2 linked regions of the Homo sapiens genome follow. The protein of the gene in region 2 interacts with the protein of the main gene of each other region in a pairwise test. Each region holds a gene or a part of one and is shown on either strand. Other genes may lie near its edges.

Evidence for each region.
Region 1: the proteins of TACO1 (region 2) and PPP1R16B interact in binary tests that used the Homo sapiens proteins (3 or more experiments, as listed by UniProt).

Annotation. Positions count from the first base shown.
Region 1 is NC_000020.11:38,913,680-38,920,724, reverse strand, and holds part of PPP1R16B (protein phosphatase 1 regulatory inhibitor subunit 16B isoform 1 precursor), read right to left. Parts: intron 2,569-7,045; coding exon 2,059-2,568; 3' UTR 1-2,058. UniProt on the Homo sapiens protein: Regulator of protein phosphatase 1 (PP1) that acts as a positive regulator of pulmonary endothelial cell (EC) barrier function. Involved in the regulation of the PI3K/AKT signaling pathway, angiogenesis and endothelial cell proliferation.
Region 2 is NC_000017.11:63,603,850-63,608,865, forward strand, and holds the end of TACO1 (translational activator of cytochrome c oxidase 1), read left to right. Parts: intron 1-684; coding exon 685-791; intron 792-2,463; coding exon 2,464-2,591; intron 2,592-3,437; coding exon 3,438-3,615; intron 3,616-3,952; coding exon 3,953-4,153; 3' UTR 4,154-4,516; downstream 4,517-5,016. UniProt on the Homo sapiens protein: Acts as a translational activator of mitochondrially-encoded cytochrome c oxidase 1.

The DNA.
Region 1 (7,045 bases), on a different chromosome or scaffold from region 2:
TAGAATACATCTATCCTGGCATTGGGGTGGAGGTGGCCTGATGCTGAGAACCTCTCCCCTTCCAGCAGCCACCAAGGGTGCAGTCACTCCCATGGGCCCTCTACTTTCTGGTCCAGCCAGCTGCCCTGCTCCTGGGAAAGCATCACTCAGGCTCCCTGAAGTCCAGCTCCCTCTCTGGGTTATGGGGCTATGGGGGCCACAGTAGGGGGCTAAGAATGACAAAGAGCAGATCCCATGACCAAAGTTGTGGCACAAGGCGGGGATGGTCTTCCAGTCCCAAGCCCCTAGCCCAGGTGCCCCTCAGGGCAAGTTTCTCATAGACTGAGAAAGAAGAGGGTTAAAAAGAACCCAGATCTGTTCCCCAAATTAAAATCTGGAACTAGGAGACCCCTTCAGAGCTCTAAGGAGGTAGTTTAAGGACAAATAAAAGGCGCACAGAGCAAGGGATAACCTGCAGCTTATCGGGTACACCAAGAGGTTCTGGCTGAGCCTGTGGGCAGTGCCCATGCCATGGGCATCTCCAAAGGGGGTCCTGGGAGACTCAGCAGTGAGGGGAGAACAGCCATTCACAGTCCTCCCTCCCCAGCACCAGGAAGGCTGGGACTATGAAACTGCAGGGCTGGGCAAGACCCAACTCTAGCCCTACCATGGCTCTCCTGAATGCAGGAGGGGATATTGACCACGTGCACCCTGGATTCGCAGACTTGGGGCATCACCACTCCTGCAAGTGCAGGCTGGGAGCCCCTGGGTGAGGCGGGAACTCAAAAGGGCTGACTGGCAAATCTGTCTCACCAAGCATCCCCAAAAAGGCAAAAGCTGGGCCCGGGATCCCGAGCACTGACTCTGCACACATGACTGATGGAGGTGGAAGGGGGTGGGAGGTGGAGGCAGGCTGGCCCCTAATTGCTTGCTCTGACAGCTCAGTCTAAGGAGGGTTGGCTGAGATGGGCTGGGCTGAAACAGTCTGGATATTCACAAAGACCCCAGGGTGCTGGGCTCTGTCGCTGTTAACTAGCGACTGTTTTTTTTAAATTAACTGGCCTCTCTCCCTGGAAAAGCATTCCAATGGAAGCTCCTCACTTAGCTTCATTTTCCCAGCACCAGCCAGTAAAACCCAGTGACCTTGATACGATCCACAAAAAGAAGTGAATTCAGTTACCTCCCTCCCTCTAGGAGTTTTACAGACTAAAGGAATTTTTAAAATCAGATACACTTTGGTAAATACTGACCTTGTCCCCCTCCCACACCCTTCTGCCTTTGACACTTCCATCCAAGAGGAAAACATGATTTGGTTGATTCCAGGAACGAAATTGCCTGGTTTTCCCCCTCCACCCCTGGATGGTCACACAGCTGGCTCCTGGCATGGGCAGAAGTGTGGCTCTCAACAAGGCTGCGGGGAGCAGGTCTGTGTCTATCTCATCTACCCATGTAGATTCCTGGCTCCCTCTGAACACAGCGAGGACTTCTCACCCCTGTCAGGTGTGGCTGGTGGCTCAGACTTTGGGATAACTCTGAGCAGGACTATGGGTCTCAGCTTAGCAGGTCCCCTCCCCTGCTAAAACCACATTGGCAGTGGTAATGAGACTCTGAGTCTTAACTTCCATCCTTTTGGGAATACCCCACAAATTCTAAGCCCCCTTGCTTCCCCTGAGCCCAGGTATGTCATTCCTACACACACTGATCGAGCTTGTGTGTGTGTGTATATGTGTGTGTGTGTGTGTGTTAATGTGACATGCATGTACTGATCCGGAGAAGCCTTTATACCAAGAATAGAGCTGGGATCTCAAGCCCACCCTCCCAAGATCAGACAGCAGAGTGAACCAGGAGGCCACGACAGGCCTTGTGTCAGATGGCAGACGATGCAGCAGGAAGCAGAACCACGGGACGTGGGACATGGGATGCTATGGGCAGCCAGCTGAGGGCTGGGGTCTGAGTTCCTCTGAAAAGCAGAGCCCACCTCTCCCCAGCTGCCCTGACACCTCCCCAGCCAGGGCTGTTGGGCTGGCCTGGATTCCAGGAGCCCCTCCCCAGGCATCTCCCTCCTCCATCACACGGAGACTAGGAGATACGGCAACAGCCATGCACCTTCTCCTCCATCTCCTCTATGGGGGCCTTGAACTTTAAGAGTGGGGGATCTCCGCTGGTGACCGTGTAATATACCGAGGTCCCATTGCTGCTGTACGGTGAAGTTCTGCCTCCGATCAAGGGGGCCTTGCCTTCACTGCTACTCTCGCCCGTCCTGGCCATGCTGCTGCCCAGGTGTGTGCTAAGGAAGGGGTGGCTGAGCAGCTTGGCTGCAGCCCGCTGCCGCTTCAGCTCCAGAAGCGTCTGAGGGCTCTGTTCCTTGTAGCTGCTCCAGGGCGGGGTGGCGTCGGCCACGCCAGGGTTGCCATAGGCCATGCTGTAGTCAGGCACCTCATGCACCTTCCAGACATCCCCGTTGGCCAGCGCATACTGGTAGGCACTGACCGGAGCCCGGAGGCCATTCTCAACAGGCATGTCCAGTTCACCTCGTGGGATCTTGGTAGGAAATTCGGAGAGTAGCACGGGCTTCTCCAGCCTGGGGTTCTGCGAGTGAGAAGGACAACATTACCAGCTGGCTGGAAGATCTGAACCTACTATCCACCTGTCTCTCTGCTGAGGGCATTATTGTTTGGACTTTTCCTCTATCTGTTTTCTCTCCCTGGGTATCGGGGCCAGGGTTTTCCTTTGGGGAACCCCCAATCTATGAATTTCCGTACAGTTGACCGACCCCTGGCCTTGCTCCAGGGCCTGGATCATGACCCAAGGCCTAGCTAGTCAACATATTTCACTACAGGGATTGGCCCAGGGATGAGTTCTTAACTGAAATTGCTTCAGTGAAGCAACCCTGGGACTTTTGCTAGAACAACTGGGAAAGAGAAGTTTCTGTAGGAACTGTGGGTAGTAAGAATGACGTAAGCTGAGGGCTGGGGAGATACTATGTTGAAGGGTCTGCTTGCAAGTAAAGTTGGCATGAAGAAAGGCTAAGAGAGACTGCATCCTGATGACCCATTTGAAGTCCAGGATCCTTCCAGGCTCAGACTTTTCAGTTGCACAAGCCAATAAATTCCTTGTGTGTAAGTCCATTTGAGTTGGGTTTTTCAGTCACTTGTAATCCTTCCTCTGTATATGAAGCATATCTCACAAAGATTCTTACCCAGGGATCCTGTACACCTAATAATCCTTGGATAACAAGAGTTTGAAAAGTAGCTGCTTCCTAAAAACTATAAACTAAAAAATAGATACATGCAACAACATTTAAAGCACAGCAAAAATCACCATGAACAGGGAACAAGGTCAAAAGACACATGAAGAAACTAGGAAAATATTTTCAACATATATTACAGAAAAGAGACTAATTTTCTAAAAGTATAAAGAGCTCTTAAAAGTCCTTTTTTTTTTTTTTTTGAGACGGAGTCTTGCTCTGTCTCTCAGGCTGGAGTGCAGTGGCGCAATCTCTGCTCACCGCAACCTCTGCCTCCCGGGTTCAAGCAATTCTCCTGCCTCAGCCTCCCGAGTAGCTGGGATTACAGGCACGTACCACCACACCCAGCAAATTTTTGTATTTTTGTAGAGATGGGGTTTCACCATGCTGGCCAGGCTGATCTTGAACTCCTGGCCTCAAGTGATCCACACTCCTCAGCTTCCCAAAGTGCTGAGATTGCAGGCATGAGCCACCGCACCCAGCCAAAAGTCAATTTTTAAAAGCCTATCTACCCAATAAAAATAGTAGGCAGGGGATACTAATATGTAGCCCACAGCAAAATATATAGATATACATGGCATTGGAATAATATTCATCCCCACTAATCGTTAATACTATAAAAATTAAAACAACAAAATATCACTTTTGGATATCACACTGACAAATACGTTTAAAGTGTGTTATTACTCAGTGTTGGCAGGGGTATGGGGAAATAAGTGAGAATGTAAATTGCTACAGTCTCTTTGATGGACAGTTTTGCATCATCCTTCACTGAAATTTTTTTCTTTTTTTCCTTTCTTCTCTCCCCAGCTCTTCAGTAAAAAATAAAAACAATAATAATGATAAAAATTTTTAGAAAAGATTGTATACTTTGCACCAGCAAGCCCATTTCACAGATTTTCTCTCTCATTAGTGCAAAGCCTGAAAGTCATCATTGGGCAAGCAGGACACTGTGGCCAGTACTTCTATTGGCATGCTCTGTAGCTGGCAAAAAGAATGAAGGAATTCTCCACAAGCTGGCATGGAAAGATGTCCAAGATATATATATATAATCTAGTTTATAATCTAGTTTTCTAACATATATTTATATATAACATACATATATAAATATATATAAAACGTACATATATAACATATATGTACATATAACATATATATGTATTTATATATAACATACATATATAACATATATAACATATATATGTTATATATATATATGGTAATATGTGATAAGGCAAAGAACACTTTCCATAGTAAGTTTCCATTTATGAGTGTGTATTTCTTCGCTTTCTCCTTTTAGAGTCAGGGCCTCACTATGTTGCACAGGCTGGTCTTGAACTCCTGGTCTCAAATGATTCTCCCACCTCAGCCTCCCAAAGCACTGGGATTACAGGCATGAGCCACCGAGTCCAACCTTTTTTTTTTTTTTAATGGCTCCTTCTGAACTATGCAGGCAGACTGATGCCATGTCATGGAGAGACCGTTTCTTGGTGGTCCTAGTCAGTGCTTCTCAAACTTTGATGTGTATGTGAGTTGCCTAGGGATATTGTTAAAATCCATATTCTGATTCAATAGGTCTGGGTTGGGGCCTGCAATTTGGCACTTCTAAGAATTTCCTGCTGATGCTTAGAGTGGCAAAGATCTGAGACACTGATCCCATCTTGGATGCACATTGGCATCATCTAGACAGTTAAAAAAAAACATGTACAGGCCGAGCGTGGTGGCTCACGCTTATAATCCCAGCACTTTGGGAGGCTATGGTGGATGGATCACTTGAGGTCAGGAGTTCGAGACCGGCCTGGCCAACATGGTGAAACCTTGTGTCTACTAAAAGAAAAACACAAAAATTAGACAGGCGCAGTGACGCAGGCCTCTAATCCTAGCTACTCAGGAGGCTGAGGCAGGATAATTGTTTGAACCAGGAGGCAGAGGTTGCAGTGAGCCAAGATTGCACAACTGCACTCCAGCCTGGGCAATAAAGTGAGACTCCGTCTCAAAAAAAAACCATATAGAACACCAATCTGAAAGCATCACATATTATATAATTCCACGTATATAACATTTTGGAAAAGCAAGACTTATGAAAACAGTAGAAGATCAGTGATTGCTAGAGTTTGGGGAGGAAGCGTAAGTAGAATACCAGGGCTGTTTAGTGGGACAGCCCTGGTCTCTTTCACCAGTTGTTCACAATCTCAACTGTCTAATATAACCACCTAAACCAAGTGGCGAGAGCATTCTGTGTGACACTATCATGACGGACACATGACATTATGCATTTGTCAAAACCCACAGGAGTTACGACACAAAGAGCAAACCCGATGTAAACTATGGGCTTTAGTTCATAATAATGTATCAATATTGGCTCATCAGTGATAACATATGTACCACACTAATGCTAGTTGTTAATAACAGGGGAAACCAGGGTGGAGGGGGGTGTATATGGGAAATATCTGTACTTTCCACTCATTTTTCTAGAGTTCTAAAACTGCTCGGAAAAAAAAAATCTATTAGTTTAAAAAGAAAAAAATCCCTGCTGGGTGCAGTGGCTCATGCCTGTAATCCCAGCACTTTGGTAGGCTGAGGTGGGAGGATGGCTTCAGCCTAAGAGTTGGAGACCAGCCTGGGCAACATAGTGAGACCTCATCACTACCCAAATATTTAAAAATTAGCTGGGCATGGTGGTGCGTGCCTGTGGCTCAGCTACATGGGAGGCTGGGCAGGAGGATCACTTGAGCCCAGGAGGGTGAGGCTGCAGTGAGCCATGTTTGTACCATTGCAGTCTAACCTGAGTGACCCTGTCAGAATGAGACCCTGTCTCAACAAAAGAAAACAAAACCCACCTATATCCATCTCCAGTGTCAGAAATCAGAGCATTGAAGGAAGAGGAATTAACTCCAGCCTGAAGGATGTGGGTTAGACGAAAGAGGTTTTCTCATGATGCAGGGAACTTCTAAATGTACTTATCTGCCTAATGCTTAATGAGGTACAAATTATGGGCTGAGTTCTATACAAATAAGAACACAATTGACCCTAGAACACCCTTTGTGGTAGGCACCATCATCTTGGCAATGTTGAACTGAGATACTGGACAACAGGAAGGTTAAACAAAACCCCCACATTTTGTGTTCTGGGGAATGGCTGACTGCACAGAATCACCCTTCCCCATAGGATTTCCAGAACGCTCAGACGACCCCTCCTTTTCCTAGGACAACCCAAACACAGTCCCCCAAATTCTCATTCTTTTCCTCTGAAATGATTAAACTGTCAATTTATCAACCGAAATTAAATGCTTGCTAAATGATTTTTTTTTTTTTTTGAGATAGAGTCTCACTCTGTTGCCCAGGCTGGAGTGCAGTGGTGCAATCTTGGCTCACTCCAACCTCTGCCTCCCAGGTTCAAGTGATTCTCCTGCCTCAGCCTCCCAAGTAGCTGGCATTACAGGCACCTGCCACCACGCCTGGCTATTTTTAGTAGAGACAGGGTTTCGCCATGTTGGCCAGGCTGGTCTCAAACTCCTGACCTCAGATGATCCGCCTGCCTGGGCCTCTCAAAGTGCTGGGATTACAGGCGTGAGCCACTGCGCCCAGCGGTAAATGATTTAACCAAATTTTAGTTAAGCTGCTCCCCTCCCCACAGGATCCTGGACTTTGACTCACCCTGAGGGTAAACAAGCACTGCAATGCAGAAAAACTCTCCTGAAGACCGTTCTGGAAATGGGCTGACCACCAGACACACATTCCTGGTCAACTGTCCAATTACACCACCTGCTCATCCCACCCCCAACCCTCAGTCCTTGCAGCCTCTGTCTTCCTCCCTAGG
Region 2 (5,016 bases):
TACAAAAAATACGAAAAAAATTACCTGGGTGTGGTGGTGCACACCAGTGGTCCCAGCTACTTGGGAGGCTGAGGCAGGAGGATCGCTTGAACCCTGGAGGTTGAGGCTACAGTGAGCTAAAATCATGCCACTGCACTCCAGCCTGGGTGACAAAGTGAGACTTTGTCTCAAAAAAAAAAAAAGTACTTTTCCAAAATACTTATCCAGGCCAGGGGCAGTGGCTCACACTTGTAATCCCAGCACTTTCGGAGGCCAAGGTGTGTGGATCACCTGAGGTCAGGAGTTCGAGACCAGCCTGGCCAACATGGCGAAACCTGGTCTCTACTAAAAATACAAAAATTAGCCGGGTGTGGTGGTGTGCACCTGTAATCCCAGCTACTCAGGAGGCTGAGGCAGGAGAATCACTTGAACCCAGGAGGTGGATGTTGCAGTGAGCCAAGATCGTGCCACTGCACTCCAGCCAGCAACAGAGTGAGACTCCATCTCAAAAAACAAACCAAAAAAACCCGAAAATACTTCTCCGTATCCCACTGAAACACTAGTTAAGGTATTCTAAGGTAACTGAGAGCTAAATGGTGATTTGCCACTCCTTTGGCTTGGTGGGGCTGGAAATCCCTTTTATTCTCCCATGTTGTAATGAGATGTCTTTGCTCACTCTTTTTTTTCTTTTTCTTTAAATCTCAGAAGGAGGCCCCAACCCTGAGCACAACAGCAACCTGGCCAATATCTTAGAGGTGTGTCGCAGCAAACATATGCCCAAGTCAACGATTGAGACAGCACTGAAAATGGAGGTGTGTACTGTTTGACATGCTTTTTATTGATCACAGCCTCTACCGGGCTCATGTCTGGATGGCCAACAAACACACTGTAAATTATCAGAGGGGCCAAGTGCAGTGGCTCACGACTATAATCCCAGCACTTTGGGAGGCTAAGGTGGGTGGATCACTTGAGGCCAGGAGTTTGGAGACCAGCCTGGCCAGCATGGTGAAACTCCATCTCTACTAAAAATACAAAAATTAGCTGGGCGTGGTGGCATATGCTTGTAATCCCAGCTACTGGGGAGGCTGAGGTGGAGGATCGCTTGAACCCAGGAGGTAGAGATTGCGGTGAGCCGAGATTGCACCACTGCACTCCAGCCTGGGCGACAGAGCGAGACTCTGTCTCAAAAAAAAAAAAAAAAATTATCAGAGAGAACGGTAGCAATGTAGTTGACGCCCTCAGCCTAGAGTCTTCTGAGAGCTCACCGTCCTTGGTCATTGGTTCTAGGAGCACAACTGGGAGTAGGATGCATAGGCAGTATGCAGGGCCATACAGTCAAGACCGGGACTGCTCAGCCAAGTTGTAGGGAGATGAGGTATTATAGAAAGAAGGGGCAGTGTGGGAGAAAGCCCTTACGTTAGGTGGAGGAAGTGTTTGTTTTTCAGATGTTTATGCCCTAAAGGAGAAAAGCCAGTAGAAAGGGAGAGGATGGGGGTGATAGAGATGGTGGGAGGGGCAGGTATATAGAGTCCACGTAAGGGTACACCTTTCTCTGGGGCAGGTAGGGAGGCTCTGAGGAAGTAATAGTTATCTTAATAGCTCAAAATTATTGAGTGCTTCCTGCAGGCTAAGCATGGATAAAAACTCTATGTGTGTTATCTCATCGAATCCTCAAAACCACCGTAAGTAGAAACTGAGGCACAGGAATGTTAGGTGAGTTGACTCAAGTCGCATAGAAAATGACAGACTTGAAACCAGATAGTCAGACTTTAGAGCCTGTGCTCTAACCGTTATGCTTATTGCCTTCATGTAGGCCATGGTGCAGAGAAGGTGGTGGAGACAGCAACTATTTTCCCCACCTAGTGGCCCTTTTTACCTTTGTGAAAGAGGAAGGGAGAAGTTATGAGTTGAGAATTCCTGGAAAGTTGCAGGACAGGGTGCTTGGAGTGGGGAATATTGAATACATGGACAAGGGATGAGTAGGGGCATGGAAGGTCCAGAAGAGATTAGTCCCTAGAGCTCTGGATTAATTGTTTCAATTTTGAGACCATGCTGTTTTCAGCAGCTCTTACGACAAGGCCTAGGTGTGTGATATTTCACAGCAGTACTCAGCAGCCCAGGGTAGGGACCTTGAGACTTGACCGGTGGGTTTCTTACAGGATGGGGGTGTAGGAGGATGAGTCTGAGTGGGATTGGGTAGGGACTAGATGTGGCATTTGGTTAGGGATGGTAGGAAGCAAAGCTGAGAGATGGCTGATGGATTGTTCAGGGACCGGAGAAACAGACTCCTTCCAAGTTAGGGGTAGTACTTCCTGTTACCTCAAAAGTTGGTTAGAGGGTGGGGACAAAAATAAAGATTGAGAGCTCAGGCTCCAGCCTAGAGAGCCCATCCCATGGAGTTAGTTTTGCGATACTTGTAGTTCTGGGCTGACATGTGGGAAGGAATTGGGAAACAGGAAAATGTGCTTGTGTTGTTTATTGCAGAAATCCAAGGACACTTATTTGCTGTATGAGGGTCGAGGCCCTGGTGGCTCTTCTCTGCTCATCGAGGCATTATCTAACAGTAGCCACAAGTGCCAAGCAGACATTAGACATATCCTGAATAAGAATGGGTAAGTGTGCGTCTGGGAGGAGTGGTAGGGGACAGAGCCTTTATGTTCCAATTCTCTGCAAGGCAAGTACTGTTGATCTCTGCTAGTGTTTCAGGGTTTTGTTTTTTGTTTTTTTGTTTTTTGAGACGGAGTCTCACTCTTGTCGCCCAGGCTGGAGTGCAATGGCATGATCTTGGCTCACTGCAACCTCTGCTTTCTGGGTTCAAGTGATTCTCCTGCCTCAGCCTCCTGAGTAGCTGGGATTAAAGATACCCACAGCCATGCCCAGCTAATTTTTGTATTTTTAGTAGAGGTGACAGGGTTTCATCATGTTGGCCAGACTGGTCTCGAACTCCTGATCTCAGGTGATCCACCTGCCTCAGCCTCCCAAAGTGCTGGGAGCCACCATGCCTGGCCATGTTTCAGGTTTTAAGCACACTTGCTCCTTAGCAGAATCTAATGAGTTAATTGACTTTCCCTTAATGTAGTTTCTACTAGCAGGATCCCAAAGACTTGTTCATCGGATGTAGAAGGGGATCTTTGTCCTATTATCCCCATCTGTAGCCATATAATGCCTAAGTCTTAAAATGCTCCACCAGGACTGGCATCTTAATGGCACAGGAAATTATCAGCTAAGTCTGCTTCCTCCCAACTGCAATCAGGGCAGAAAATCGAGCGTGGGGACATTCTTGGGCTGTTCCCTTACCCAGCAGCAGCTGCATTTTCTCCTTGAGGATGCGATCTGCTCCATGTCTGTGTGTACTTCATAGACTGGGTAAGAAAGAGACAGTGATAGAATGATGAGCTTTATGGAGGCTGAGCTTCTAGAGGCATCCACTCATGCCAGCCTGTTTCCTTCCCTGTCAGAGGAGTGATGGCTGTAGGAGCTCGTCACTCTTTTGACAAAAAGGGGGTGATTGTGGTTGAAGTGGAGGACAGAGAGAAGAAGGCTGTGAACCTAGAGCGTGCCCTGGAGATGGCAATCGAAGCAGGAGCTGAGGATGTCAAGGAAACTGAAGATGAAGAAGAAAGGAACGTTTTTAAAGTAAGCATGAAAACATGGGTGTTTGGTGGGCTTCCGGGAGGACCCTGATAGATGCCTTATGCATGCCTCTTGGTTTCTTCCTTCATGTGCCCCAGGGTATAGGTGAGACAGTTCACATATTGTACAAACATTTATTAAGTGAATACTGAATAGGACCGACTCTAGTGAGGACTATGAGAAAGAAAGAGTCAAAACATTGAAAACGATGTCCCTGCCAGTGAAGAGCTCAAACCCAGTGATCCATTCCAGTACTGACATTCAGGACTTTGCAAGGTCCTGTGTGGCTTTGTCTCATTACCTCCTGGCTCCTCACCTCCTGACTTTCCTTTATCCCTAGTTTATTTGTGATGCCTCTTCACTGCACCAAGTGAGGAAGAAGCTGGACTCCCTGGGCCTGTGTTCTGTGTCCTGTGCACTAGAGTTCATCCCCAACTCAAAGGTGCAGCTGGCTGAGCCCGACCTGGAACAGGCCGCACATCTCATTCAGGCTCTCAGCAACCACGAGGATGTGATTCACGTCTATGATAACATTGAATAACCAGGCTACATGTGCCCCCGGGTTCCTTCCTAGAAATGTGGCAGCCCATTCCAGCACACAGGCTTCTGCAGCAATCTCTGAGGGTAAAGCCGGTGGGAGGCTCAGCAGGCCAGGAGGCCCAAGGACAGGACTTGCGACCTTGAAGCCAAAGGAATCTCACTTGTGGGGCCTCCTTGTCAGCTCTGCTGCTGTCTCAGAGCCATCTGGATGAGTGTCCCGACACCCTCTCGGATGCAGGGCAGGACCACCCAGCTGGTCAGACTCTGATGTTGGGTAGCTGGCCTCTGTGGGGATTGTAAGTGCCCTGAGGCGCTCTGTACTAGAAACTGCTCTTAATAATAACGGTGATTATTGGTTGCTGCATTGCTGTTGTATGGCTCTTGAGTCTTCCTGAGTTTGTGTCCAGCTGTTGGGATCCTCTGGACTAACTTTCAAGTCCCTAGGCTTAGCTCTACTACTCCAATCCCAGGATTATTTTTTTAATTGGCCATAGAAATGTAGTTGTATCCAGGCACTCCATGGTCTGATGCTGGTCTTACAGCCTAAACCTGTCATTCATTCATGCAACTAATATTTCTGGAACACTAGCTATATACCAAGAACTGTACTTATCTAGAGCATAAGCTATTCAACTGGTGTCCTGTGTTAGATCCTGCTCTAGAAGGTAGGACCTGAACACAGGACTGCTCTTTACTGGAGCTGTCCCAGGGCAGTGTGAGCTGCTGTGCAAGCATCTGTTGCTCTCTTTGTGTGACTTCTGTGCCCTTCTTTCACCAAACAGCTTAAGGTTCTAGCCCAGTAGGAAATCAAGTGCCAGTGATAAGGGACTTGGCAGTGGCTCACACCTATAATCCCATCTACTC